Linked DNA regions of Homo sapiens: region 2 is linked to region 1. The links come from fine-mapping of genetic effects on gene expression. A gene starts in region 1. The other region holds a variant in brackets. All regions are shown on one strand. Distances are between the middles of the regions. Region 1 holds the start of SH2D3A (SH2 domain containing 3A). Region 2 holds the start of LOC124904623 (a long non-coding RNA gene).

What was found.
Region 2: its variant is fine-mapped to the expression of SH2D3A in left ventricle (GTEx, PIP above 0.99). The same link has a PIP of 0.9 or more in fibroblasts.

The regions. Positions count from the first base shown.
Region 1 is chr19:6,756,798-6,771,549 of GRCh38, forward strand. It overlaps SH2D3A (SH2 domain containing 3A), which reads right to left and starts at 10,638. Exons shown (of 10, transcript NM_005490.3): 1 at 10,590-10,638; 2 at 6,883-7,019; 3 at 3,841-4,190; 4 at 2,797-2,873. The coding sequence starts at 6,951. RefSeq lists enhancers at 4,033-4,533, 8,128-9,028 and a silencer at 11,117-11,176.
Region 2 is chr19:6,740,289-6,751,728 of GRCh38, forward strand. It overlaps TRIP10 (thyroid hormone receptor interactor 10), which reads left to right. Exons shown (of 15, transcript NM_001288962.2): 2 at 722-837; 3 at 937-993; 4 at 2,679-2,826; 5 at 2,906-2,968; 6 at 3,206-3,310; 7 at 3,420-3,548; 8 at 4,266-4,412; 9 at 4,512-4,706; 10 at 5,741-5,908; 11 at 6,164-6,273; 12 at 9,646-9,778; 13 at 10,004-10,143; 14 at 10,224-10,345; 15 at 10,775-11,242. The coding sequence ends at 10,923. It overlaps LOC124904623 (a long non-coding RNA gene), which reads right to left and starts at 8,299. Exons shown (of 2, transcript XR_007067109.1): 1 at 8,163-8,299; 2 at 7,876-8,068. RefSeq lists enhancers at 1-253, 2,484-3,403, 5,455-5,955. The variant T/C (reference allele first, on the strand shown) is at 4,806.

The DNA of each region.
Region 1 (14,752 bases):
CTCTCCCCTCATTCCCTCTGCTTCAGCTACACTCGTGTGTCCCTCCTTCCCTCCCTCCCTTCGTTCCTTCCTTCCTTCCTTTCTTTTCTTTCTTGACGGAGTCTCACTCTGTCACCAGGCTACAGTGCAGTGGCGCCATCTCGGCTTATTGCAACCTCTGCCTCCCGGGTTCAAGTGATTCTCCTGCTTCAGCCTCCCGAGTAGCTGGGACCACAGGCGCCACCACACCCAGCTAATTTTTGTATTTTTAGTAGACACGGGGTTTCACCATGTTGGCCAGGATGGTCTTGATCTCTTGACCTCGTGATCCGCCCGCTTTGGCCTCCCAAAGTGCTGGGATTACAGGCTTGTAATTTCTGGACTATTAGTACTTAAAACTGTACTAAGACTTTTGGGAGACTGTATTTACCATGCCTTTGAATAGGCTCAACCTGCACATTCTGCACGTGTATCTTTTTTTTTTTTTTTTTAAGAAGAAATTGAGCCATTGCACCCAGCCCTTTCTTTTCTTCTTCTTTTTTTTTTTTTTTTTAAATTTGAGTCAGGGTCTCACTCTGTGGCCCAGGCTGGAGTGCAATGGTGCGATCACGGCTCACTGCAGCCTTGACTTTCTGGGTTCAAGGAGTCCTCCTGCTTCAACCTCCCAAGTGGCTAGGACCACAGGCGTGCAACACCACACCCAGCTACCCACTCATTTTTTGGTTGAATGAACAGCTTAAATTCTTGTTCTGACCCAAGAGCCTTTGCACTGCCTCTTCCTCCTGCCTGCTTATCCCCCAGTTATCCACCTGTTCCCTCCCTCATTTCCTTCAATTTTATTTTTTTCTGCAATGGGGCCTTTCCTGACTACCACTTAAAATTGCTTGCTTGGGTACAATGGCTCACGCCTGTAATCCCAGCACTTTGGGAGGTTGAGGTGGGTGGATCACCTGAGGTCAGGAGTTCGAGACCAGCCTGACCAACATGGGGAAACCCCATCTCCACTAAAAATACAAAATTAGCAGGGCGTGGTGCACATGCCTGTAATCCCAGCTACTCGGGAGGCTGAGGCAGGAGAATCACTTGAACCCAGGAGGTGGAGGTTGCAGTGAGCCGGTATCACGCCATTGCACTCCATCCTGGGCAACAAGAGCAAAACTCTATCTCAAAAATAAATAAATAAATAGAAATAAAATAAAATTGCAATATACATCTCCATCTTTATAGTCTCTATCTCCCTTACTCTGTTTTTTTTGTTTTGTTTTGTTTTTGTTTTTTCGGTTTTTTTGAGACAGTCTCACTCTGTCCCAAGTAGCTTGGATTACAGGCATATGCCACTACACCTGGCTAATTTTTGTATTTTATTTTATTTTATTTTTTTTTAGTAGAGATGGGTTTTCACCATGTTGGCCAGGCTGGTCTCGAACTCCTGACCTCAAGTGATCCGCCCACCTTGGCCTCCCAAAGTGCTAGGATTACAGACCTGAGCCACCTCACCCTTCCCTTACTGTTTTTTGTTTGTTTGTTTGTTTTTTGAGACAGAGTCTCACTCTGTTGTCCAGGCTGGAGTGCAGTGGTGCAATCTTGGCTCACGGCAACCTCTGCCTCCCGGGTTCAAGCAATTCTCGTGCCTCAGCCTCCCGAGTCTCCCGAGTAGCTGGGATTACAGGTGTGTACCACCACGCCCGGCTAATTTTTGTAGTTTTAGTAGAGACGGGGTTTCGCCATGTTGGCCAGGCTGGTCTCGAACTCCTGACTTTAGGTGATCCGCCCGCCTTGGCCTTCCAAAGTGCTGGGATTACAGGCCTGAGCCACTGTGCCTGGCCTTCCCTTCCTGTGTTTTAATTTTCATCTTGAAGCAAACAAAATTGCCTTATTTTTGTGGTTCATGGTTTGTTGTCCTCTCGTGGACTGTTGGCTCCCATCGGGCAGGGATCTTTGTCTCTTTCTGGTTTGTTGATGTATCCTAGCACTCCGTGCAGGGCCTGGGATGCAGGGACGGCTCATGTTGAATGGGGTTGGGAGAAGGATGGGAAAAAAGGGGCATGAGGGGGCATTCAGGTGAGTCCTCCTTTAGGTAAGACCGTCAGACTCAACTGCTTTGAGGAACTTACCCTGGATGGAGAGGAGCCACTCAGGAAAAAATTAGGGGAATGAGAATGTTCCCGTCACTGGTGGAAATGTAAAATGCAAAGGCCCCGAGGCGGGAATAAAAGCCTGAGGGTTCGAACAACTGCAAGGAGGGCTGTGTGACCAGCATGAGGAGGGTACGTAGCAGAAGTTGTTAGCAAGGTAAGCTGTGGTCAGAACAGGTACAGCTCCTTGGAATAATTGTAAACACTTTTTTTTTTTTTTGAGATGGAGTTTTGTTCTGTCACCCAGTCTGGAGTGCGGTAGCGCCATCTCGGCTCACTGCAACCTCCACCTCCCAGGTTCAAGCGATTCTCCTGCCGCAGCCTCCAGAGTAGCTGGGATTACAGGTGCGTGCCACCACGCTCGGCTAATTTTGTGTTTTTAGTGGAGATGGGGTTTCACCATGTTGGCAAGGCTGGTCTCGAATTCCTGACCTCAAGTGATCCACCGGCCTCGGCCTCCCAAAGTGCTGGGATTACAGGCATGAGCCACCGCGCTCAGCCTTGTAAACACACATTTTAAGCACCCACAAAGTCCCTGCATGTTTTAAGTCATCGTGATTGTCATCATTTTCTAAAGCAAGAAATTGAGGCTCGAAGAGGTGCCTGCACCTGACCAAGATCTCTTAGGTGGTGAGTGGCAGAGCCAATCCCTGAGCCACAGGCCATTCTAGCAGACACTTACCCATCCCAGCGGGGTCTTCTCTTGACCGCCCCATATGTGCCAAATCTGCAGGCTGACTGTTGCTCCACTTCCTTGCCCTGGGGGACAGAAGTGGGAGAAACCTGTAGTCCCCACCTAAGCAGTGTCCCCCACCAATATCTGCAAAACCCTGTGTCCAGTTACTCTGTACCAGTGAGTCTCAACCAATCAAGGTGACCTACGTCCAGGGGACTCTTAGCAACGTGTGGAGACATCTTTAGTTGTCACAACTAGTAGCATCTAGTTGGATGGAGCTCAGGAATGCTGCTCAGCACCCTATGATGCACAGGACATCTCCACCTCCTCCCCCACAACTAAGAATGTTCGGGCCTCAAAAGTCAACCAAGGCCGGGTGCGGTGGCTCACACCTGTAATCCCAGCACTATGGGAGGCTGAGGCGGGCGGTCACGTGAGGTCAAAAGTTCAAGACCAGCCAGGCCAACATGGTGAAACCCTGTCTCTACTAAAAATACAAAAAATTAGCCAGGCGTGGTGGCTCATGCCTGTAATCCCAGCACTTTGGGAGGCCGAGGCGGGTGGATCACTTGAGGTCAGGAGTTTGAGACCAGCCTGGCCAACATGGTGAAACCCCGTCTCTACTAAAAATACAAAAAATTAGCCAGGCATGGTGGTGCACGCCTGTAATCCCAGCTACTCGGGAAGCTGAGACAGGAGAATTGCTTGAACCCGGGAGGCGGAGGTTGCAGTGGGCTGAGATCGTGCCATTGCACTCCAGCCTGGGCAACAGAGTGAGACTTCGACTCCAGAGAAAAATAAAAAATAAAAAAGTAAAAAAATTAGCTGGGCGTGGTGGTGCACTCCTGTAATCCCAGCTACTCTGGAGGCTGAGGCAGGAGAATCGCTTGAACCTGAGAGGTGGAGGTTGCAGTGAGCTGAAATCATGCCACTGCACTCCAGCCTGGGCAACAGAGTGAGACTCAGTCAAAAAAAAAAAAAGTCAACCATTGAGTTGGAAAACCCTGCGAGTGTTGGGTGTTCTCAAGGAGGCAGGGAGACTGTGAGTACCTGAGAGGCTCTATCCGAGCTGGGCCATCCATCAGGGTGTCCTCGCTAAAGCTGCGTCGCAGAGGCCCCTGCCAAGTCACAGGCCTGGAGACCACAGCCCCTGTGGCCTGGGACAGTGGGCGCCTGCCTGTCATATAACTGTGAACCAGAGCCGGTATGCTGGGGAATTGCTCATCCTCCAGTTGAAAGAGGGCTGTGGGTCGGCCTGGCCGGGGACGCAGGGCCACACGGAACACCTCAAAATGGAGGGCTGAGCCCCGCCAGCGGCAGGAGATCACGGGGTTGCCCCCACGGGACCCAGAGGCGCGAACCAGGAAGTCGCCATTTTGCTGAAGAAGAGCTTCAGCCTTCTGTGGATGAAGTTCAGGGGGCAGGGGAATTAGGAATGAGTCCAGGGCAGTGGTTAATGGTAGCTCCCCCCACCATTGCCCCCACCACCCAAGAAAAGCTACCCCAGTGAAACTTCTGTGGCAGGCAAAGACGGGGAACTTTCACACCAAGTTCTGTCCCCCTTTCTCCTGGCACCTACGTAGACTACATTTCCCAGGTTCCCTTGCGGCTAGGGTTGTCATGTGATGAGAACTGGCCAATGGGATGTGGGGTAGAAGGGCTATGGGAAATATCCAGACCTGGCGCATAAAACCCTGCTGCACAATCTTATAGGTTGTGTCCCCTGTCTGTCAGCTGATATCCCCCAAAGCCCAGAGGGATGACAGAGCTACAAGATGCACTTGGCTCCCAACTGATTTATGGAGCTTTGCATCTCTGCTTCTCAACCACCTTGGACTATGACATTAACATGTTGACTGTGTTTAGCTGGTGATATCTTGGGAATGTTTGTTACAGCCACTAGCTGATGCTGACCAATGCAACATCTAATTTGGTAAATGCACTGTGCTTGTTATGCAAATGTGGCTTCAAGAGAAGCCATTAGCTGGATGCTTCCAGATTGGGGCCCCCTCTTTTATAAACATTTGCAAGCAGTCTTATGCCAGCTGTGGTGGCTGGTGTCAAAATAGGGTAGGAAGGGTGGGGCACAGTGGCTCACACCTGTAATCCCAGCACTTTGGGAGGCTGAGGTAGGCAGATCACTTGAGATCAGGAGTTTGAGACCAGCCTGGGCAACATGGCAAAACCCTGTCTCTACCAAAAAATATAAAAATTAGCTGAGCGTGGTGGTGTGCACCTGTCATTCCAGCTACTCAGGAGGCTGAGGTGGGAGAATCGCTTGAACCCAGGAGGCAGAGGTTGCAGTGAGCCGAGATGGAGCCATTGCACTCCAGCATGGGTGACAGAGTGAGATCATGTCTCAAAAACAAAAAAAAAACAAAAAAAAAAACAAAAAAAAGGCTTGGGGAGGCAGGTAGAAGGGCCAGGACCCCAGAGAGAGGCAAAGTAGAGCTGAACATGGGGTCTGGGGACTAAATAATAGATGTAGCAGACACACGTGTGTAGCCCTTACTATATGTCAAGCACTGCTTTAAATGTAAAGGGTGTTAACTCTTGTAATTCCTGTAACAAGGGTGGTAGGTATTATTATACCTTTTTTTGTTGTTGTTCTTTGGGACGGAGTTTCACTCTTGTTGCTCAGGCTGGAGTGCAATGGCACAATCTCGGCTCACTGCAACCTCTGCCTCCTGGGTTCAAGCGATTCTGCTGTCTCAGCCTCCCGAGTAGCTGGGATTACAGGTGCATGCCACCATGCCTGGCTACTTTTTTGTATTTTTAGTAGAGAGGGGGTTTCATCATATAGGTCAGGCTGGTCTCGAACTCCTGACTTCAGGTGATCTACCCACCTCGGCCTCCCAAAGTGCTAGGATTACAGGCATGAGTCACCATGCCCGGCCCATTTTTTTCTTCCGGCCTTTTTTTTTTTTTTTTTTTTTTGAGTCAAGGTCTCTCTCGATTGCCCAGGCTGAGTGCAGTGGAGCACTCATGGCTCACTCACAGCCTTGACCTCCTGGGCTTAAGCAATCCTCCCATCTCAGCCTCCTGAGTAGTTGGGACAACAGGTACATGCCACCCATGCCTGGATAATTTTCGCTTTTTTTTTTTTTTTTGTGTAGAGACAGAGTTCTGCTATGTTGCCCAGACTGGTTTGGAACTCCTGACCTCAAGTGATCCTCCTGCCTCAGCCTCCCAAAGTGCTGGGATTACAGGCATGAGCCAACATGCCTGGCCTGCTATCCCTATGTTAAAGATCGGGAGACTGAGGCCCAGAGAGGTCAAATGTCCTGCCCAAGGTCACATACAATATAAATTGTAGGGTTTGGATTTGAACCTAGGGTGTCTGGGTCTCAATTATGGGATTTTAACTATTAAGTTCTACTGCCTCTCATGATTTCATGAGATGCTCAGGGTCCCAGAATTTTTGGGGGTGACAACTGAGTTTCAGATGGAGGTGGGAGCCTCAGATTTATTTGTTTGTTTATTTATTTATGTTTTTGACAGAGTCTCGCTCTGTTACCCAGTCTGGAGTGCAGTGGCACAATTGTGGCTCACTACAACCTCTGCCTCCTGGGTTCAAGAGATTCTCCTGCCTCAGCCTCCCAAGTAGCTGAGACTACAGGCGCATACCACCATGTCTGGCTAATTTTTGTATTTTTATTAGAGATGGGGTTTCACAATGTTGGCCAGGCTGGTCTTGAACTCCTGACTTCAAGTGATCCGCCCACCTCGGCCTTTCAAACTGTTGGGATTACAGGCGTGAGCCACCATGCCTGGCTTGGGAGCCTCACATTTAGAGGGAAATACCAGGAGGTAGATGGAGTTCAGAGGGAGAGACGGCCAGAGCCAAGAGTAGTTTGGGGGCATTAGGACTCTCCTTAAGCTCCATCACCAATCTCATCATCCCAAAGAAAGTGATAATTTAAATATAGTGACAGTCCCCAGCCAGCCAACCTTCAAGACAGTCCCCAGCCCTCTGCCACCTGTCCCAATAGACCTTGGCACTAAGTCCCTCATCCAGGGACCCAGGAATCCTCAGCAAGGGTGGGAGAGGCTCCCCACCAGATGGTGCTGAGGTCCTGCTGTGGGTGGTACCTGGCGGGACAGGAGGCCGTGGTACCAAGGTTGGCCAGCAAGGTCTTCTCCATCCTGTGGCACCTGCATGGAGCTCTTGGGAACAGAGGGTGCCAGGGCTGAGCTCTGCACTTTCAACAGGCCTCAGTCTTCCACATCTGTAAAAGGGGAATAATTAGCCCTGCTTGAGTGTCTGGGTCAGCTCCTTTCATCCTCTTCTTAATTTTGGAGACAGCTCCATCAAATCTTTTTTTTTTTTTTTTTTTTTTTTTGAGACAGAGTCTCATTCTATCACCCAGGCTGGAGTGCAATGGTGCGATCTTGGCTCACTGCAACCTCTGCCTCCCAGATTCAAGCGATTCTCCTGCCTCAGCCTCCCAAGTAGCTGGGATTACAGGCATGCACCACCACACCCAGCTAATGTTTTTTCTTTTTTTATATTTGTAGTAGAGACAGGGTTTCACTGTGTTCGCCAGGCTGGTCTTGAACTCCTGACCTCAGGTGATCCACCTGCCTCAGCCTCCCAAAGTGCTGGGATTACAGGCATAAGCCACTGCACGCAGACTTTTTTTTTTACATTTAAAGAGAGAGGTCTTATGTGTTGCCCAGGCTGGAGTGCAGTGCTATTCACAGGTGTGATCATAGCACACTTTAGCCTTGAATTCCTGGGCTCAAGGAATCCTCTAGCCTCAGCCTCCCAAGTAGTTGGGATTACAGATGTCACCATCGTGCCTGTTCCAAATATAATGCAATCGAAGAAAAAAAAAATGGCTGAAGATGACAACATGCCACCCCATCTTGCAGAAATGTAATTAATGAATTCACTGAACCCCTATTTATTCAGCACCTTATGGGGTCCCAGGCTCTGTTCTAGGCCCTAGAGACATAGCATTGAACAAAACAGATGGAAATCTCTGTCCTTGGGAGCTGACATTCTACTGGGGAGCAGCACCTCAGAAAAGAACTAGATGATGGCATACATGAGTGAGTGCTAGACAAAAAAACTAAACCATGGATGGGATATAATGAAAGTACAGGTGCTAGGGTGAACACTCTTTTTTTTTTGAGACAGAGTCTTGCTTTATTGCCCAGGCTGGACTGCAGTGGTGCAATCACAGCTCATTGCGGCCTTGACCTCCTGGGCTCAAGTGATTCTCCCACCTCATCCTTCTGAGTAGCTGGGACTATGAGCGTGGGCCACTGTACCTGGCTAATTTTTTTTTTTTTTTTTTTTTTTGAGATCAAGTCTCACTCTGTTGCCCAGGCTGGAGTGCAGTGGCATGATCTCAGTTCATTGCAACTTCCGCCTGCTGGTTTCAAGCAATTCTCGTGCATCGGCCTCCTCAGTAGCTGGGACTACAGGTGTGTGCCACCATGCCTGGCTAATTTTTAAAATATTTTTAATAGAGATGGGGTTTCTCCATGTTGGCCAGGCTGGTCTCGAACTCCTGACCTCAGGTGATCCACCCTCCTCAGCCTCCCAAAGCACTGGGATTACCAGCATGAGCCACTGCGTCTGGCTGTGCCTGGCTAATTTTTAAATATATATGTAGAGATTGGGTCTTGCCACGTTGCCCAGGCTGGGTGAACATTTTTGATCATGTGACCAGGAAAGGTCTCATTGAGTAAAGTCTGGAAGGAATTCTGGGGAGTGTGCCAGGTGACTCTGGGTGAAAAAACATCCCAGTCAGGGGGAATTTAACTTACAAACATCCATGGCTTCTCGGCAACCTATGCGCACACTCAGAGGTTCTCAGGATAGGTGCAGATCTAACCCCTATTCTTTGCTTTAGAATGCAACGCTGGGGGCCAGGCGCGGTGGCTCACTCTTGTAATCCTAGCACTTTGGGAGGCAGAGGTGGGTGGATCATCTGAGGTCAGGAGTTTGAGACCAGCCTGGTCAACACAGTGAAACCCCGTCTCTACTAAAAATACAAAAATTAGCCAGGCATGGTGGCGTGTGCCTGTAGTCCCAGCTACTCAGGAGGCTGAGGAGAGAGAATCGCTTGAATCCAGGAGGCAGACCCTGCAGTGAACCGAGATCACACCACTGCACTCCAGCCTGGGTGACAGAGCAAGACTCCGTCTCAAAAAAAAAAAAAAAAAAAAGAATGTAACCCCAGGGTTAAGATTTTTAAAAGGTCACATTTTGTAGCAATGTCAGCAAACAGCAATGTTGCCTTTGCAGATCCTTCTATTTCGGAGCCCATACATGTGGTTATCATGATGATTGAATTTGGATCTCAGACATTTTGGTAGTTTCCCGATAATCTCACAGGCCTCAGGGCCAGTGTGTCTCAGGTGTCTGGTGGGGGAGATTTCTCTGGATGGTCCAGAAGAAGATAATCTGCTTCTTACTCTCCTGCAAGCTCTCCCTGCAGCCCTGCAAAGTCTTCTGGTGGGGTCTGCAGAGAAATTCCTGCCTCCTGAGTCAGCAGGAAGTTCCCAGACCAGCCCTAGGTGGCTTTAGGGGAGGAGCGCTGGGCAGGGAGCCAGCTGCCAGTGCCGCATACCTGAAGCCAGGTGTGTCTTTGCAATGCCTGCGCACTTCCTGTTTGTCACCTGGACCAGGGCTAGCCTCGGTCGCAGAGTTTCCCAACCCCAAGTTCCTGTCTTGTGTCTCCCTTAGTGAGAGTGAAGTTGAGTCAATGGCAAGGTTCTGGTTAGTTTGAGGACACAGGGTGGCCATAGGTCAGCCAAAGGCCAACTAAGCCATCTCCTGCCTCTGAGTCCTTTGGGATCATTTATTCGGGCACGGAAGAGAAGAAACGGGCAGAATCAGGAATCAGACCAAGCATAGAGAGAGGAGAGAGGGGATTATTCATGTTCCAGTTGGATCATAAACATGTGTCCACGTGTGGGGAGGACGTGGAGGGTGGGAACCACCAGCACAGGCAACACAAACACAGATGTAGGCAGGACTCGCTTTTGACGTTGGACGACCATTGCTGGAGCACTTGCTGTGCACCAGGCTCTGTTCTAGGACCTAGAGATACAGTGACTAAGGAGATTAAAGCTCGGCACCACCCTGCCCTCCAGAGCTTGCAGTCGGCTGCGCAAGACAGACTGCAAACGAGCACAAGATGAATGGAGAAGACAGACCATTTCTAAGAGTTATCAATGAAAGTGATAAGCCAGGGAGATGTGATAGAGGAGGCTGGACAGGACAGCCTCTCCTATAAAGTGACATTGGAACTGAGACCTCAGTACAGAAGGAGGCAGTTAGGCAAAGATTTGGAGGAGTCGCCTGGGTGAGGGGTACAGTAAGGGTAAAGGCCTGGAGCTGAGATGGACTTGCTTTTTACATTTTACATCATCAAGGCGGCTGGTGTAGCCGGAATACGATGAGGAAGGAGTAGATAGGAGGGCAATGAGGTTGGAGAGATCAGGAGGAGAGACTAGGCAAAAACTAGTGGACTTTGAATTTTAATCTCTATGACCCAAGGGTTTTAAGTGAAGGAGGGGCCCGATCTGATTCGCCGTTTAAGAGGATCACTCAGGCAAAAATGGAAACAATGGCTTTCTGTGCTGCACAGGAAATACACTTAGAGAGGCACGCCCAGGTGAGCCCGAGCACACCGACACGCGTAACGCACAGCGACCCTCTCATTCGCGAGGCGACCTCTTCTACCCCAGATCCTCCCTGCGAGCCGGTGACCCCACCTGGAAAGAGAGGACTCCCCATCCCAATAATCCTGGTTCTGGATCTGCCCTGGGGCTCCACTCACCTGGGCAGGACCCGCGGGGCTCCCACGAGGCTGGGTCCAGGCGGAAGCTGAGGCTCCGCGGCTCCGGGCTGCTGTCACCCCCGCCCTCCACCTTGCCACCGCCCCAGCCTTCCCAGACCACACCTAGTGGGAACTCAGCCCAGTTACCTGACCACACCTCCTGCAGACCCCGCCCCCTGCGGGCCCCGCCTCAAACTAACTTCCCAGGCCCTTGCTCCGCCCCCTTAAAACCATTTTTTTTGCTACTAGCCACGCCTCCTTCTGCATCGCACCGCTTTCTCCATAGACCCCGCCCACTAGGGGAGCACCACGCATCCTTTCCTGCCAGTGGCCCCTCCCCTTGTATATAGCCACGACCACCGCCGAATGACTACGCCCACCCGCAGCCACCTCCTTCTCAGCCCCGCCCCTTAGGGCAATAGAAGAAATTTCATCCCAACGTTCCCGCCCCTTAGAACCCTGCCCCTCCCTTCCACCCAGGCGGCCCCAAGCACCCATGGCCCTTTGGGACCAGGGCGGGGTGGAGTGGGGTGCCTCTCTCCCCTCCCCGCCAAGGCTCCGGGTCAGGGCAGGGCAACTCCCTCGGGCTCTTACGCCAGGCTGGGGTAGCTGCGGCAGCTGTGACGTAAGGAGGGGTACGCTTCCTCCAGACCGCCCTCCCGGATTTTCCGGAAAGAAGCCCCATTTAGGTGGCGGGTTTTGTGGAGAGACGTCCGGGAAAACGCGACAGCTTCCTTCAGTGACAGCACGCTGGAGCGGGGCGGGACTTTGGTGGAGGTGGAAGGCAAATCATTCAGGTGGTTTCCCAGGTGGGAAGAAGGGTGGGGGGGACTTCCATCGTGATGCCTGGAGACGAACAAGAGAAAAGGTGACAGGGACCTAGTGCAAGAGAGAGGACTCTTTGGCCACGTTTATTGATGAGTTCCTCATATTAACATCAGTCTTGTCTTGTAGAGACAGGGTCTTGCTATATTGCCCAGGCCGGAGTGCAGTGGTGATCATAGCTCACTGTAGCCTCAACCTCCTGGGCTTAAGCTATCCTCCCGCTTCAGCCTTCCAAGCAGCTGAGACTAAAGGTGCACACCACCACACCCAGCTGATTTTATTTTATTTTTTGTAGATGTGGCGTCTTACTATGCTGCCCAGGCTCTGGAACTCCTGGGCTCATGCGAACTTCCTGCCTTGGCCTCCCAGAGCGCTGAGATTACAAGCAAGCATGAACCACTGTGCTTGGCCCCAGTAACCACAGTCTTAAAAGCAGTAGCAGCAGCTAACATTTATTGAGCACTTACTGTACACAAGGGCTGTTCTGTCAACTTGCCTTTATTTTATTTTATTTTATTTTTTGAGATGGAGTTTCACTCTCGTTGCCCAGACTGGAGTGCAGTGGCAGCAGTCTCAGCTCACTGCAACCTCCACCTCCCCGGTTCAAGCGATTCTCCGGCTGTAGACTCCCGAGTAGCTGGGATTACAGGCTAATTTTTGTATTTTTAGTAGAGATGGGGTCTCGGCCAGACTGGTCTCAAACTCCTGACCTCATGTGATCCACCTGCCTCGGCCTCCCAAAGTGCTGGGGTTACAGGCATGAGGCCTCTATTTTAATTTTCAAACAGACCACCCTGTAAGGGTGGTAGGTAGTATTTTCATCACTTCCATTTTCCAGATGGAGAAACTGAGGCACAGGGCAACTAAACCATTTGCCCAAGTTAACCTGGCTTGTAAGTGGTAGAGGCGAAATTCAAACCCGGAGCTCTGGAGCTTTATCCTGTCTGCCTCCTTTTCAATCTTCGCATGCCCACTTTCTCCACGATGCTGCTTTGCGGTGAAAGTTACTCACCCACCATTTTACAGATGAGGAAATTGAGGCCTAGAGGGCCAACGATGCTTGGGGATGAAAAGTTTTGATGCCTGTAGGTTGCAAAGCAGGGAATTTCCAGACTGGGCTCCCCCGACTGGCCCTGGCAAATATGGAAGAGACTCCAGGCTCAAGAGGGGAAGAAAGTTTCTTCCTTATCCCTCACCGGTCTGGTATTGGTACAGTCAGAGGGTAGGGGCATGTTCAGGGAAGGGGTCTAGCGCCTCCTCGTGGTTATAATAATTTAAAAAGAGGGCCCAGCACTTTGGGAGGCCGAGGTGGGCAGATCACCTGAGGTCAGGAGTTCCAGACCAGCCTGACCAACATGGTGAAACCCTGTCTCCACTAAATACAAAATTAGCTGGGTGTGGTGGAATGCACCTGTAATCCCAGCTACTGGGGAGGCTGAGGAAGGAGAATCACTTGAACCTGGGAGGCGGAGGTTGCTGTGAGCAGATTAGCTGTGTGTGGTGGCATGCACCTGTAATCCCGGCTACTAGGGAGGCTGAGGAAGGAGAATCACTTGAACCTGGGAGGCAGAGGTTGCTGTGGGCAGAGATTGCACCATTGCACTCTAGCCTGGGCAACCAGAGTGAAACTTTCTCCTAAGAATAATAATAACGATAATTTAAAAAGAAACTCCATGATGAGGGCCACGTATTAGGTGGACGGGGGAGGGCCTGCTTACACTCTACTGGGGTGGAAGCTAGGGATGGGGGCAGAGAGACCTAATCTCATGAAGATGATTTCAGCTAATGATAAGGTAATGGCCGGGAAGCCAGTAAATGTTTGTTGAATGAGTTAATGAAAGACACTATTGGGCCTGGCACAGTGGCTCGTGCCTGTAATCCCAGCACTTTGGGAGGCTGAGGCAGGTGGATCACTTGAGGCCAGGAGTTTGAGACCAGCCTGGGCCACATGGCGAAACCCTGTCTCTACTGAAAATACAAAAATTTAGCCACGCATGGTGACACCTATAATCCCAGCTACTCGGGAGGCTGAGGCAGGAGAATCACTTGAATCTGGGAGGCAGAGGTTGCAATGAGCCGAGATTGCGCCACTACACTCCAGCCTGGTCCATAGAGCAAGACAAAAAAAAAAAAAAAAAAAGACACTATTGTAGTCTATAAGGAGAGGGATGATGGTGGCTTGGATTTGGGTGGTGACCATGGACATGGTGATAAAGGGATGGATTTGGGATAAATGTCAGGTGCAGTCAATAGAGCTTTCAATTATTTATTCATTCAACAGGTATTTAAGGGGCATGCCTATGTGTCAGGTGCTGCATAAGAGAGGGGTCAGTAGTGAACCAAAGAAACATAAATTCTTGAACAGACAATAAAGAAACAATGATGAGCGGGTGCCATGGCCCACGTCTGTAATCCCAGTACTTTGGGAAGCCGAGGTGGGAGGATTGCTTGAGGCCAGGAGTTCAAGACCAGCCTGGGCAACATAGTAAAAGCCCCTCTCTGCAAAAAAATTTAAAATTAGCCAGGCACAGTGGCACAAGCCTGTAGTTCCAGCTACTTGGGAGGCTGAGGCGGGAGGATCACTTGAGCCCAGGAGTTTGAGGCTGCAGTGAGCTATGATCATGCCACTGAACTCCAGCCTGGATGACAGAAGAAAGAGCCTGGGCACAGTGACTCAAGCCTGTAATCCCAGCACTTTGGAAGACCAAGGCGGGCAGATCACTTGAGGTCAGGAGTTTGAGACCAGCCTGGCCAACATGCTGAAACCCTGTCTCTGTGAAAATACAAAAATTACCTGGGCATGGTGGCAGGTGCCAGTAATCCCAGCTGCCTGGGAGGCTGAGGTCAGGGAAAACCTGGGAGGCAGAGCTTGCAGTGAGCTGAGATCATGCCACTGCACTCCAGCCTGGGTGACAGAATGAGACCCTGTCAAAAAAAAAAAAAAAAAAAAAAAAAAAAAGCCGGGCGCGGTGGCTCACGCCTGTAATCCCAGCACTTTGGGAGGCTGAGGCAGGTGGATCACCTGAGGTCAGGAGTTCGAGACCAGCCTGACCAACATGGAGAAACCCTGTCTCTACTAAAAATACAAAATTAGCTGGGCGTGGTGATGCATGCCCGTAATCTCAGCTACTTGGGAAGCTGAGACAGGAGAATCGCTTGAACCCAGGAGGCAGAGGTTGTGGTGAGCTGATCACACCACTGCACTCTAGCCTGGGCAACGAGAGTGAAACTCCGTCTCAAAAGAAAAAAAAAGAAGAAAGAAGCCTGGCGCGGTGGCTCACGCCTGTAATCCCAGCACTTTGGGAGGCTGAGGCGGGCGGATCATGAGATCGGGAGAT
Region 2 (11,440 bases), 18 kb before region 1:
CGGCCTGATCCCCCTCCCTGGCTTCCCCCTGCTCACCCCAGGCCCAGGGCGGGACCGCCCCCTGGTCGCCTATAACCTCAGCCCTGGAAGCCCCAGAAATTTCCCCCTATCCTAGCCGGACCTCTGACCCCTCCCCTTGCTGGGGGCGGTGGAATCCCTGAGTTCTTAGTGCAGCGGGGGTAACCAGACTGCCACCCCCTCCTCCAATTCTGCGATTTCTTTTGGATGTGTAGTGGGGTCAGTGGGGTAAATTGAGTCACCCATCGGGGGATCCCTGGAAGCAGGGAGATTCAGGGAACCTGGTGCCTGCCCCCTGGCCACTCAGGGGCCCCCAGTCTGCCAGGAACCCTGCCCCTCTGGCCTTGACTCACGCCGGGCCGGCCGGATTTTCCGGAATCCGGGGGGATTAGGGGAGCCCGAGCTGGGGGAGTGGCCCTGTCCCCTTCCACGCCCCTCTTGGCGGTCCTATGTCGGAGACCTCCATCTCCCGGCCGGGGTGGCTGGGGCCTGGGCGCTGTTCTCCGGCCCTTCCCGGGAAGGGGAGGGGGTTCCCGCCAGTTTCCTGCCTCCCCCCGCGCCACGCCGGGGCGGCGCCGGGAAGCCACTCCTTCTAGGAGCGCAGAGCCTTGGCCCTCCCTGGGAGTCTGGTCGGCGGGCTGTGGGGTCCCAAAATCGTGACCCCGGCCCCTCTCCCCTCCTCCCCCACCATGTCCCATGTCAGGATCAGTTCGAGGTGCTCGAGCGCCACACGCAGTGGGGGCTGGACCTGTTGGACAGATATGTAAAGTTCGTGAAAGAACGCACCGAAGTGGAACAGGCTTACGCCAAACAACTGCGGTGAGACCCTGGGGTGGACGCTACGGAGGACGCGCCTGGGGCGACGGGGAGCGGTGGGAGGGCTGCGGGCTCAGCCCTCCTACCTCTGTCTCCCCTTAGGAGCCTGGTGAAAAAATATCTGCCCAAGAGACCTGCCAAGGATGATCCTGAGTCCAAGTAAGGTTGGAGAGGGGCTGCAGGGCTAGATTTGTGGGGAAAGGCGGTGCTTGGGTCTCACTTCCCCTCCCTCAGCTGGGACACCCCACCGCTCCTCTCACTTCCCCTTCTAGAGGTGAGAGCATGGATGCAAGATGCGGGATTATCTGGCTTGGAATCCTGAGTCCACTACTATGTAGAGAAATTGACTTGGGCTTGTGACTCAGGTTTTCTGCCACTATTTTCCTTAACTGTTAAATACAGAGGCCCCAGCAGTTACAAAACCAGTAACTTTGGGCAGATGACTTAAAGTTTTGCGCCTCTGTTTTCCTCATCTGTGAAATGGAATGATGACGATTCCTCCAGCTTTGTAGGGCTTTCATGAACACGAGCTGAGTGAATGTGTTTAAACAGTGTGCAGTCCATATCAAACGCCGTAAGGAGCATTTGACTTGGAATTGAGTCCCCAATTCCAAAATCCAAAAAAGCCCTGGAAATCAAGTTGTTTTGGTCACTTGTTTGGCAGCAATCTCTGACCTGAACTTTTTGTTAATTGTAGTTGTTTTGTTTTGTTTTTGACAGAGTTTCACTCTGTCCCCCAGGCTGGAGTGCAGTGGCGCCATCTCAGCTCACTGCAACTTCCGCCTCCCAGGTTCAAGCGATTCTCCTGCCTCAGCCTCCCTAGTAGCTGGGATTACAGTCACCTGCCACCATGCCCAGCTAATTTTTATATTTTTAGTAGAGACAGGGTTTCACCATGTTAGCCAGGCTGGTAATTGTAGTTTTGACTTTTATCCCACTTAGTGTGAATGTTAACACCTCTCATTGTAAAATTAAAAAAAAAAATAGGGTTGGGCACAGTGGCTCACACCTGTAATCCCACACATTGGGAGGGTGCGCAGGTGGATCACTTGAGGTCAGGAGTTCGAGAGCAGCCTGGTCAACATGGTGAAACCTTGTCTCTTCTAAAAATACAAAAATTAGCCAGGCGTTGTGGTGCGCGCCTGTAATCCCAGCTACTCAGGAGGCTGAGGCATGAGAATCGCTTGAACCCGGGAGGCGGAGGTTGCAGTGAGCCAAGATCGCACCACTGCACTCCAGCCTGGGCGACAGAGTGAGACTCTGTCTCCAAAACAAATAGATACGGTGTTTGATTACAAAATGATGTCCCCAACCCCACTAAGATGATGCAGAAAAGATGGTATAAGCTTTGTACACCATCTTTAAAAACTGGAAAATTCTGTGTTCCAATATACATTCGAGGTCCAGTGCGGTGGCTCACACCTGTACTCCCAGCACTTTGGGAGGGTGAGGCGGGAAGATGCGGAGTTCGGGGGGATTGGAGTTTGAGACCTCATCTGGAAAAAAAAAATTAGCCAGGTGTGGTGGCGTGTGCCTGTGGTCCCAGCTATTTGGGAGCCTGAGGTGGGAGGATCACTTGAGCCCAGGAGTTTGAGGCTGCAGTGAGACGCAATCATGCCGCTGCACTGCAGCCTGGGTGACAGCAAGACCCTGTCTCAAAAAAAAAAAAAAAAAAAATCTACTCAAGGGTTGGGGTTAAGGAATATGGACCAGAATTTGTCATCGCTTCAGGGATTACATTCTTGGGGCTTAACCCTTTTCCACCTGGAGGTGCGTCCTGGGGCATCAGCCTGCTCGGGAGGAGGGGCCTGACTCCCTGTTCCCCGATTCTCATCCAACCCCAGATTCAGCCAGCAACAGTCCTTCGTACAGATTCTCCAGGAGGTGAATGACTTTGCAGGCCAGCGGGAGCTGGTGGCTGAGAACCTCAGTGTCCGTGTATGTCTTGAGCTGACCAAGTACTCACAAGAGATGAAACAGGAGAGGAAGATGGTGAGGAGCCCCCCGATTCAGGTTTTACAAAGGGCTTCTGCTGGAACCCTGGCGAGCCTTATCACTCTTCTTTCTGTAGCACTTCCAAGAAGGGCGGCGGGCCCAGCAGCAGCTGGAAAATGGCTTTAAACAGCTGGAGAATGTGAGTTTGCAGAGGTAGCAGTGACTGTGGCCCGGAGGCATGGGGGCAGGGTTGCGGATCCGGAGTCAGGGAGCTGCCCTCTTTGTCAGACCTGGACCTTCCCTCCCCCATAGGCTTCCAGTACTCCCTTGACCCCTACTTACTGGATGACATCCCAATAATCCCTGAAACCTTGGTTTCCCACCCTGCTGTCTTTGGGATGGTGGCTCCCTCACTCCGGTTCTGTCCCCTACACAGAGTAAGCGTAAATTTGAGCGGGACTGCCGGGAGGCAGAGAAGGCAGCCCAGACTGCTGAACGGCTAGACCAGGATATCAACGCCACCAAGGCTGATGTGGAGAAGGTGTGTGTGGCGGGGGCGGGGGGGGGGTGCGGGGTCTGGGACAAGCTTGGGGAGTCCGAGTGGGACGTGATCGGAACCTGGCAGTACCTTCCACCTCTGCATTCTTCAGGCCAAGCAGCAAGCCCACCTTCGGAGTCACATGGCCGAAGAAAGCAAAAACGAATATGCGGCTCAACTGCAGCGCTTCAACCGAGACCAAGCCCACTTCTATTTTTCACAGATGCCCCAGATATTCGATGTGAGTGCTCCCAGTTCTCAGACCTACCTTCCCGAAAGCCTCCAAATGTTAGCCAACTCCTACGCATTCATCAAAACCCCAGCTGCAATGTCCCAGTCCCTAGATTGAAAGGGAATCAGAAACCTATAGTAACAGTGAGCTGTGCTTTTAGTCAGCTGTTCTTCCTGCTGGGCATGCCTTTTACTTGTTTGTTTATTTACTTCTATAGAGAGATGGGGCCTGGCTCTGTCACCCGGGCAGGAGTGCAGTGGCATAATCACAGCTCACTGCAGCCTGGAACCCCTGTGCTCAAGTGACCTTTCTTTCTTTTTGAAATTCCTACTTATTCTTCTAAGCTCCACCTCTAACAACCCCTCTGAAAGGTCTCGAATTTCCCCTCTCCTGTTTCAATCTAGCGCTCCACTCTCTGTCCCATCCGTGGCCCTGGGAGTATCAGGGCTGGTTCTGCTTTTTCTTCAAATCCCTGTTCCCTTGTCTCCTCCTTTGAGAAGCCTTTGCTGACCCCCTAGGCACGCGTCCCCCTCTGAGATCCCCCTGGCCCTGTGTCTCTTCCCCAACCACAGTGGGCTGGAGTCTCTCTTCCCGACTCTGTCTTCCCCTCCAGACTGGCTTGGGGCTGGGGCCAGCGTGGAGCGCGATCATATTTGCAGAGTGAATCACTGTGCTTCTAGTCCCTCTGTTAGCACCCCTGAGCCACCCTTGTCCCTGTCCTTACAGAAGCTCCAAGACATGGATGAACGCAGGGCCACCCGCCTGGGTGCCGGGTATGGGCTCCTGTCGGAGGCCGAGCTGGAGGTGGTGCCCATAATAGCCAAGTGCTTGGAGGGCATGAAGGTGGCTGCAAATGCTGTGGATCCCAAGAACGTGGGTGCCTGGTCTGGGTCCACTGGGCTACGGGAAGGGCAGAGGGAGGTACCCATAGGCTAGGCACTCGACTGCTCATCCACTGTCCCCCTCCCCCAGGACTCCCACGTCCTTATAGAGCTGCACAAGTCAGGTTTTGCCCGCCCGGGCGACGTGGAATTCGAGGACTTCAGCCAGCCCATGAACCGTGCACCCTCCGACAGCAGTCTGGGCACCCCCTCGGATGGACGGCCTGAACTCCGAGGCCCGGGTCGCAGCCGCACCAAGCGCTGGCCTTTTGGCAAGAAGAACAAGGTGGGGGCCGGGACCCTTGGGATGGTGGGGGAGAAGGACAGTGAAGTGGGGACAGTGGGGCCCCTATTGAGTCAGCCCCAGCCGCCTGAACGCCGAGTC[T/C]CGGGCAGGAATTTTCCTCTTGGCTGCCAGCCCGGACTGGAGGGAAGGAAGGCGGCCGATTGGCCTGGGAGTCCCCCGAGGCGAAGGCGGGGGCAGGGTGGGGAGGTGGGGAGGTCCGTGGCGTTTGTCTGCTGCTTCTCGGGATGCTGGGAGAAAACCTGCTGGTGGAATTCAGGGCTGGCCTGAGGGCTGGTGACACCATCCCTGGGGACTCCCCGAGTTTCTCTCTCCATCCTGCTGATGGGACTCTGGGAGCCGCCCTGCATGTCTTGCTTTCTTGGGTTTTTGGATTTTAATATACCTTAGCACCCTTGGTTTATACCTTTGATTTATACTTTGGGTCCCTCTTCACTTACACTCTCATACCTCTCCTTGACTTAACACCTGTGATCCCCGAGCTTAAACTTCTGATGCCCCTAACCCCTCTCATTTTCCTGCCTTCCACTCCCTCTCGGCTTGTGGTTTTATTTTTGTTTATTTATTTTTGTCCTCTGTGGCCTCTTACCTGTCTGAGACCTTGATTCCTGCATGCGTCTTCTAGACTGTCAGCCCAGAAAGCTAAGTGGACAGAGAGACATGGGCCTCCCTGCCTCCTGGACCCATGCTTGCTCCCGGACATAACATTCCAGAGACCTAGGAGATACCGGGGGAGTGAGAGTTCTGGCTTTCGGGCTTACAGTTCAACATCCTCCCCGCCACCTTCCAGATTTTTTTGTGTCGCTCCTGCATGCGTTTTCTCTGTGTGGTTGTGCATCTTGAGTTGTGGTTTTCTTACCGTTTTTTTTCTTTCTCCATTTTGTTTTTCCTTTTTCCTTTTTTTGCGTCCATCCGTCCATCCGTGCGTCCATCCCTCCGTCCATTCGTCCTCACTCTCTACATCCTCCTATGCCCCCCCACCCCTTCAACCTATCCCCCTCCCCGGCCCCCGCCGGTAGCCTCGCCCCCCACCCCTCTCCCCCCTGGGGGGCCCCGTACCCTCGGCATTGCCTAACGGACCCCCGTCCCCCCGCTCCGGCCGTGACCCCTTGGCCATACTGAGCGAGATCAGTAAGTCGGTCAAACCGAGGCTAGCATCCTTCCGCAGCCTTCGAGGCAGCCGTGGGGTAAGTGAGGCCTCGGGGCAGGAGGAGGTGGTGGCCCTAGCCTGCCCAGCGGCGGGTGGCGGGACCCTGGGCTCGCTTCCTGCCGCTGGCTGGGCCCCTCTTCCCTGGTTGCCCAACCCAGACCTGCTTTGCTCTGTGCATGGCTTCGCTGTCAAGAACCATGGCTGGGGAAGGGAGTGAAATATCTCAGACGGGTGCAGAGTCTGGCAGGCTAGACTCCTTGATCCCAAATTCAGCCCTCTACCCACCTTGCAGACAGTGGTGACCGAGGATTTTAGCCACTTGCCCCCAGAGCAGCAGCGAAAACGGCTTCAACAGCAGTTGGAAGAACGCAGTCGTGAACTTCAGAAGGAGGTTGACCAGAGGTAAGGTGGTGGGGTAGGGAAGGACAGGCAAGGAACATGATAAAATAGTAAATGAACTTCACTTATTTGTTTATTATTTTATTTTATTTATTTTATTATATTTTATTTTGTGACAGGGTCTTAGTCTGTCGTCCAGGCTGGAGTGCAGTGCTGTGATCTTAGCTCACTGCAATCGCCACATCCCAGGTTCAAGCAATTCTTGTGCCTCAGCCTGCCGATTAGCTAGGACCACAGGCATGCACCAGCTAATTTTTATATTTTTAGTAGAGGCGGGGTTTCCCCATATTAGCCAGGCTGTCTTGAACTCCTGGCCTCAGTTGATCTGCCTGCCTCAGCCTCCCATAGTGCTGGGATTATAGGCATGAGCCACTGCCCGGGTCTGTAAATGAATGACATTTAAATGGTACTCAAAGATCTCCCCAATAATCCCAAGGCCCCGACGGTTTTACAGGTGATTCCTACCACACTTAGTTACTTCTTGGCCAGGTGCAGTGGCCTGTGCCTGCAATCCCAGCATTTTGGGAGGTTGAGGCAGGAGGATCATCTGAGCCTAGGAGTTTGAGACCTGCCTGGGCAACAGAGTGAGACCCCATTTCTAGCAAAAATAAAAAAATTAGCTGGGTGTGGTGGTTTGTGTCTGTAGTCCCAGCCACTTGGGAGGCTGAGGTGGGAGGATGGCTTAAGCCTGGGAAATGGAGACTACAGTGAGCTGTGACTGCACCACTTGCACTTCAGCCTGGGTGTCAGAGTGAGACCCTGTCTCAAAAAGAAAAAAAGAAACAGTTACTTCTTGTCTTATACAAGTCATTCCAGCAAACAGAAAAAGTGTGAAAGCTGTCAACCTCTTTAGGCTGAAGAATCCTGATTCCCAAATCTGTGGCCAAGAATTCAATAAGATAAAATTAAGGGCTCATTTTACCTTATTTATGATCATAGAGGCAAAATCCTAGCCAAGCAAATCCAGTGTTTAAAAAATAATACATCACTTTGGGAGGCCAAGGAGGGCAGATCACGTGAGGTCAGGAGTTCGAGACCAGCCTGACCAACATGGTGAAACCCCGTCTCTACTAAAAATACAAAAACTAGCTGGGCATTGTGGCACGCGCCTGTAATTCCAGCTACTCGGGAGGCTGAGGTGGGAGAATCGCTTGAACCTGGGAGGCGGAGGTTGCAGTGAGTCAAGACTGCACCACTGCACTCCAGCCTGGGTAACACAGCGAGTCTCTACCTCAAATAATAATAATAATAATAATAATACATTAGCCGAGCACAGTGGCTCATGCCTATAAGCCCAGCACTTTGGGAGGCTGGGTAGAAGGATCACTCACTTGAGCCTAGGAGTTCAAGGCCAGCCTGGGCAACGTAGTAAAACCCCATCTCTTAGAAGAAGAAGAAGAAAAACCCAAGTAAATTTTTTTAAAAACTAAAAAAAAAAAAATCCACCATTGGTTGGGTTTTATCCCAATAATGCAAAGATAGTTCAATATCAAAAAATGTATCCATCTAGTTCACCACATTAATTGGCTAAAAGAAAAGCAGCATATGGTTATCTATTTAATAGCTCAAACACTTAAAATATTGACAATAAAAAAATCTGGCAGATTAAAAAAAAAATCTTTACTCACTCTTTCCAGGCAACAAAATCCTCTTCCCAGTTCTGTTACATAATAGGAATGATGTTTGCCACTTGCAAACAGGCAGCCAAATTATATTTTGCCATTTGCATGTAACCTCTTGGACAGAATGGCTTTTATTGGTGTAAAGTTCCATTCAGAACTCTCTAGTTCCTGAGTTTCTACGGTGGAGGGGTTAAGGGTGCATGTTCTAGAGTCACGACAAACTGGACTTGATTTCCAGCTTCATCTCAGGACTTGGGCAGCCTGTTTTACCTTTTAATTCCTCAGTTTCTTCATCTGTAAAGTGGATCAGGTATTAGAACTGGAATGAAGTTGGCAGGGTGCAGTGGTTTATGCCTGTAATCCAAGCACTTTGGGAGGCCGAGGCAGGCAGATGGCTTGAGACCGAGTTTGAGACCAGCTTGGCCAACATATGGAAATCCTGTCTCTACTAAAAATATAAAAATTAGCCAGGCGTGGTGGCGTGTGCCTGTAGTCCCAGCTACTCCAGAGGCTGAGGCACGAGAATCACTTGATCCCGGGAGGCACAGGTTGCTGTGAGCCGAGATTGCGCCACTGCATTCCAGCCTGGGCGACAGAGTGAGACTGTGTCTCAAAAAAAGATAAAAAATAACTGGAAGGAAGTTGAGCTCAGATCTGGTCTTTTCCAAAGGTCCATTATAGTCGTGACTACCTGTATATATAGACATAGGGGAGACAGGGATGAGAAACTGATGATAATGATAACAGTATTTATTAGTCACTTACTGCATTCTAGGCACTATTCGAAACAGTGTACATGGATTTATTCGAATTTTCAAGGTTTCCTGAGAGATTGTATGCAGACTTAAGATCTGTCTTGTTTAGTGTTATATTTATCTTTATTTATTTTTTCCCCTGCCCCCCCTTCTTTTTTTATTTTTTAAAAATTATTTTGATTTTTTACTAGAGACAAAGTCTCACACCATTGCCCAGGCTGGTCTTGAACTCCTGGCCTCAAGTGATCCTTCCACCTCAGCCTCCCAAAATAATGCTGGGATTACAGATGTGAGCCACCACGGCCAGCCCAGTGTTATATTTCTGATGCTTGGAATAGGACCTGTATGCAGTAGGTACTCAATATGTATATGAGTAATAGTGAGGACTTACTAGGTATCAGGCATTGTATTAATCCTCACAGTGACCCACATGAGATATTAGGATCATTATCTCCATTTCCAAAATAAGCAAACAGCAGTGGGGGTTCAATGATTTAAGCCAAGCTCACACAGCTAGGAAATATTCAAACTGAGATTCGAACCCAGGCAGTCGGGCACTAGTATTTGCATCCTTAACCATTGTCCTGCCTTGCTATTTGCTCCTTGATGCAAAACCCCTGTTTTTTGCTTGTTAAATCACATGGAGCCCGGTGCTGTGGCTCATGCCTGTAATCCCAGCACTTTGGGAGGCTGAGCCAGGAGGATCCCTTGAACTCAGCCTGGGCAACATAGCCAGACCCCATCTCTACTAAAAATTTTTGAAAAATCAGGCGAGTGTGGTGATGCGGGTCTATAGTCCCAGTTACTCAGGAGGCTGAGGCAGGAGTATCACTTGAGCCCGGGAGGTTAAGGTTGCAGTGAGCCATGATTGCACCACTGCACACCAGCCTGGGGAAAGAGTCAGAATGAGACCCTGACTCAAACAAAACAAAACAACAGCAACAAAAAAACTCACACGGAAGTATGTTTTCCTGTCTATCCTGTCTCCCTTGTCATAGGGAAGCCCTAAAGAAAATGAAGGATGTCTATGAGAAGACACCTCAGATGGGGGACCCCGCCAGCTTGGAGCCCCAGATCGCTGAAACCCTGAGCAACATTGAACGGCTGAAATTGGAAGTGCAGAAGTATGAGGTCAGGAAAGACCCTGGGGAGGGGCGGGAGCCAGCGGGCCTGGCTGAGTCACTGCTGGGTGGGGTGGGGGGTCGGGGACAGGGGAGGTGTTCGGAGCGGGGGGTCTCCAGCTGTTTTCCATCACAGCCTTGGCTGTGCGTGGGTGATCTCAGGGAACCTCTGGGTCCAAAGTGGGCTGACCCCGGAGCTCTGCCCTGGAACGATTTTCCTGTCCCCTCCTCCCAGGCGTGGCTGGCAGAAGCTGAAAGTCGAGTCCTTAGCAACCGGGGAGACAGCCTGAGCCGGCACGCCCGGCCTCCCGACCCCCCCGCTAGCGCCCCGCCAGACAGCAGCAGCAACAGCGCATCACAGGACACCAAGGAGAGGTGAGGGGTGACGTCAGAGTGGGTCTGTTCCCAGGGTCCCAGGAGGGCCTGTCTTTATCTGCCGAATTATCCCCAAACAGCTCTGAAGAGCCTCCCTCAGAAGAGAGCCAGGACACCCCCATTTACACGGAGTTTGATGAGGATTTCGAGGAGGAACCCACATCCCCCATAGGTCACTGTGTGGCCATCTACCACTTTGAAGGTGAGAACGGCCAGAGTGGGCTTGGCGGGGTATGGGAGGCAGTGTCTCTGGCTAGGTTCAGTTTAAATTCGCCTAAAGCAGGGCTGGGCGGGTGGCTCAGGCTTGTAATCCCAGCACTTTGGGAAGCTGAGGCAGGCAGATCACTTGAGGTCAAGAATTCCATACCAGCCTGGCGAACACGGTGAAACCCCATCTCTACTGAAAGTACAAAAATTAGCCAGGTGTGGTGGCGCACGCCTGTGATCCCAGCTACTCGGGAGGCTGAGGCAGGAGAATCCCTTGAACCTGGAGGCAGAGGTTGCAGGGAGCCAAGATCCGTGCCACTGCACTCCAGCCTGGGCGAGAGCGAGGCTCTGTCTCAAAAATAAAAAATAAAAATAATAAATTTTGCCTAAAGCAGATCTGGGCCCACCCCCACCCCCATCACAGGGTCCAGCGAGGGCACTATCTCTATGGCCGAGGGTGAAGACCTCAGTCTTATGGAAGAAGACAAAGGGGACGGCTGGACCCGGGTCAGGCGGAAAGAGGGAGGCGAGGGCTACGTGCCCACCTCCTACCTCCGAGTCACGCTCAATTGAACCCTGCCAGAGACGGGAAGAGGGGGGCTGTCGGCTGCTGCTTCTGGGCCACGGGGAGCCCCAGGACCTATGCACTTTATTTCTGACCCCGTGGCTTCGGCTGAGACCTGTGTAACCTGCTGCCCCCTCCACCCCCAACCCAGTCCTACCTGTCACACCGGACGGACCCGCTGTGCCTTCTACCATCGTTCCACCATTGATGTACATACTCATGTTTTACATCTTTTCTTTCTGCCGCTCGGCTCCGGCCATTTTGTTTTATACAAAAATGGGAAAAAAAAAAAAGAAATTATATAAAGTTCCTAGAGTCGGTGTCTTATTAGAGGATTTAAATACTGGGACTGGAAGTATCTAACACCACGTTTCTTACAGGCCACACAGGGAATGAGGAAGGGGAGGTGATCTTGGGCACACCTTGGGTCAACCCTGCCCCTTTCTGGAAGTTGGCCTATGTCATTGTCAGTGGGTGTCTGCTTGTGACTCAGGTAGGGAGAAGGATACCAAGTTTCTTTTTTTT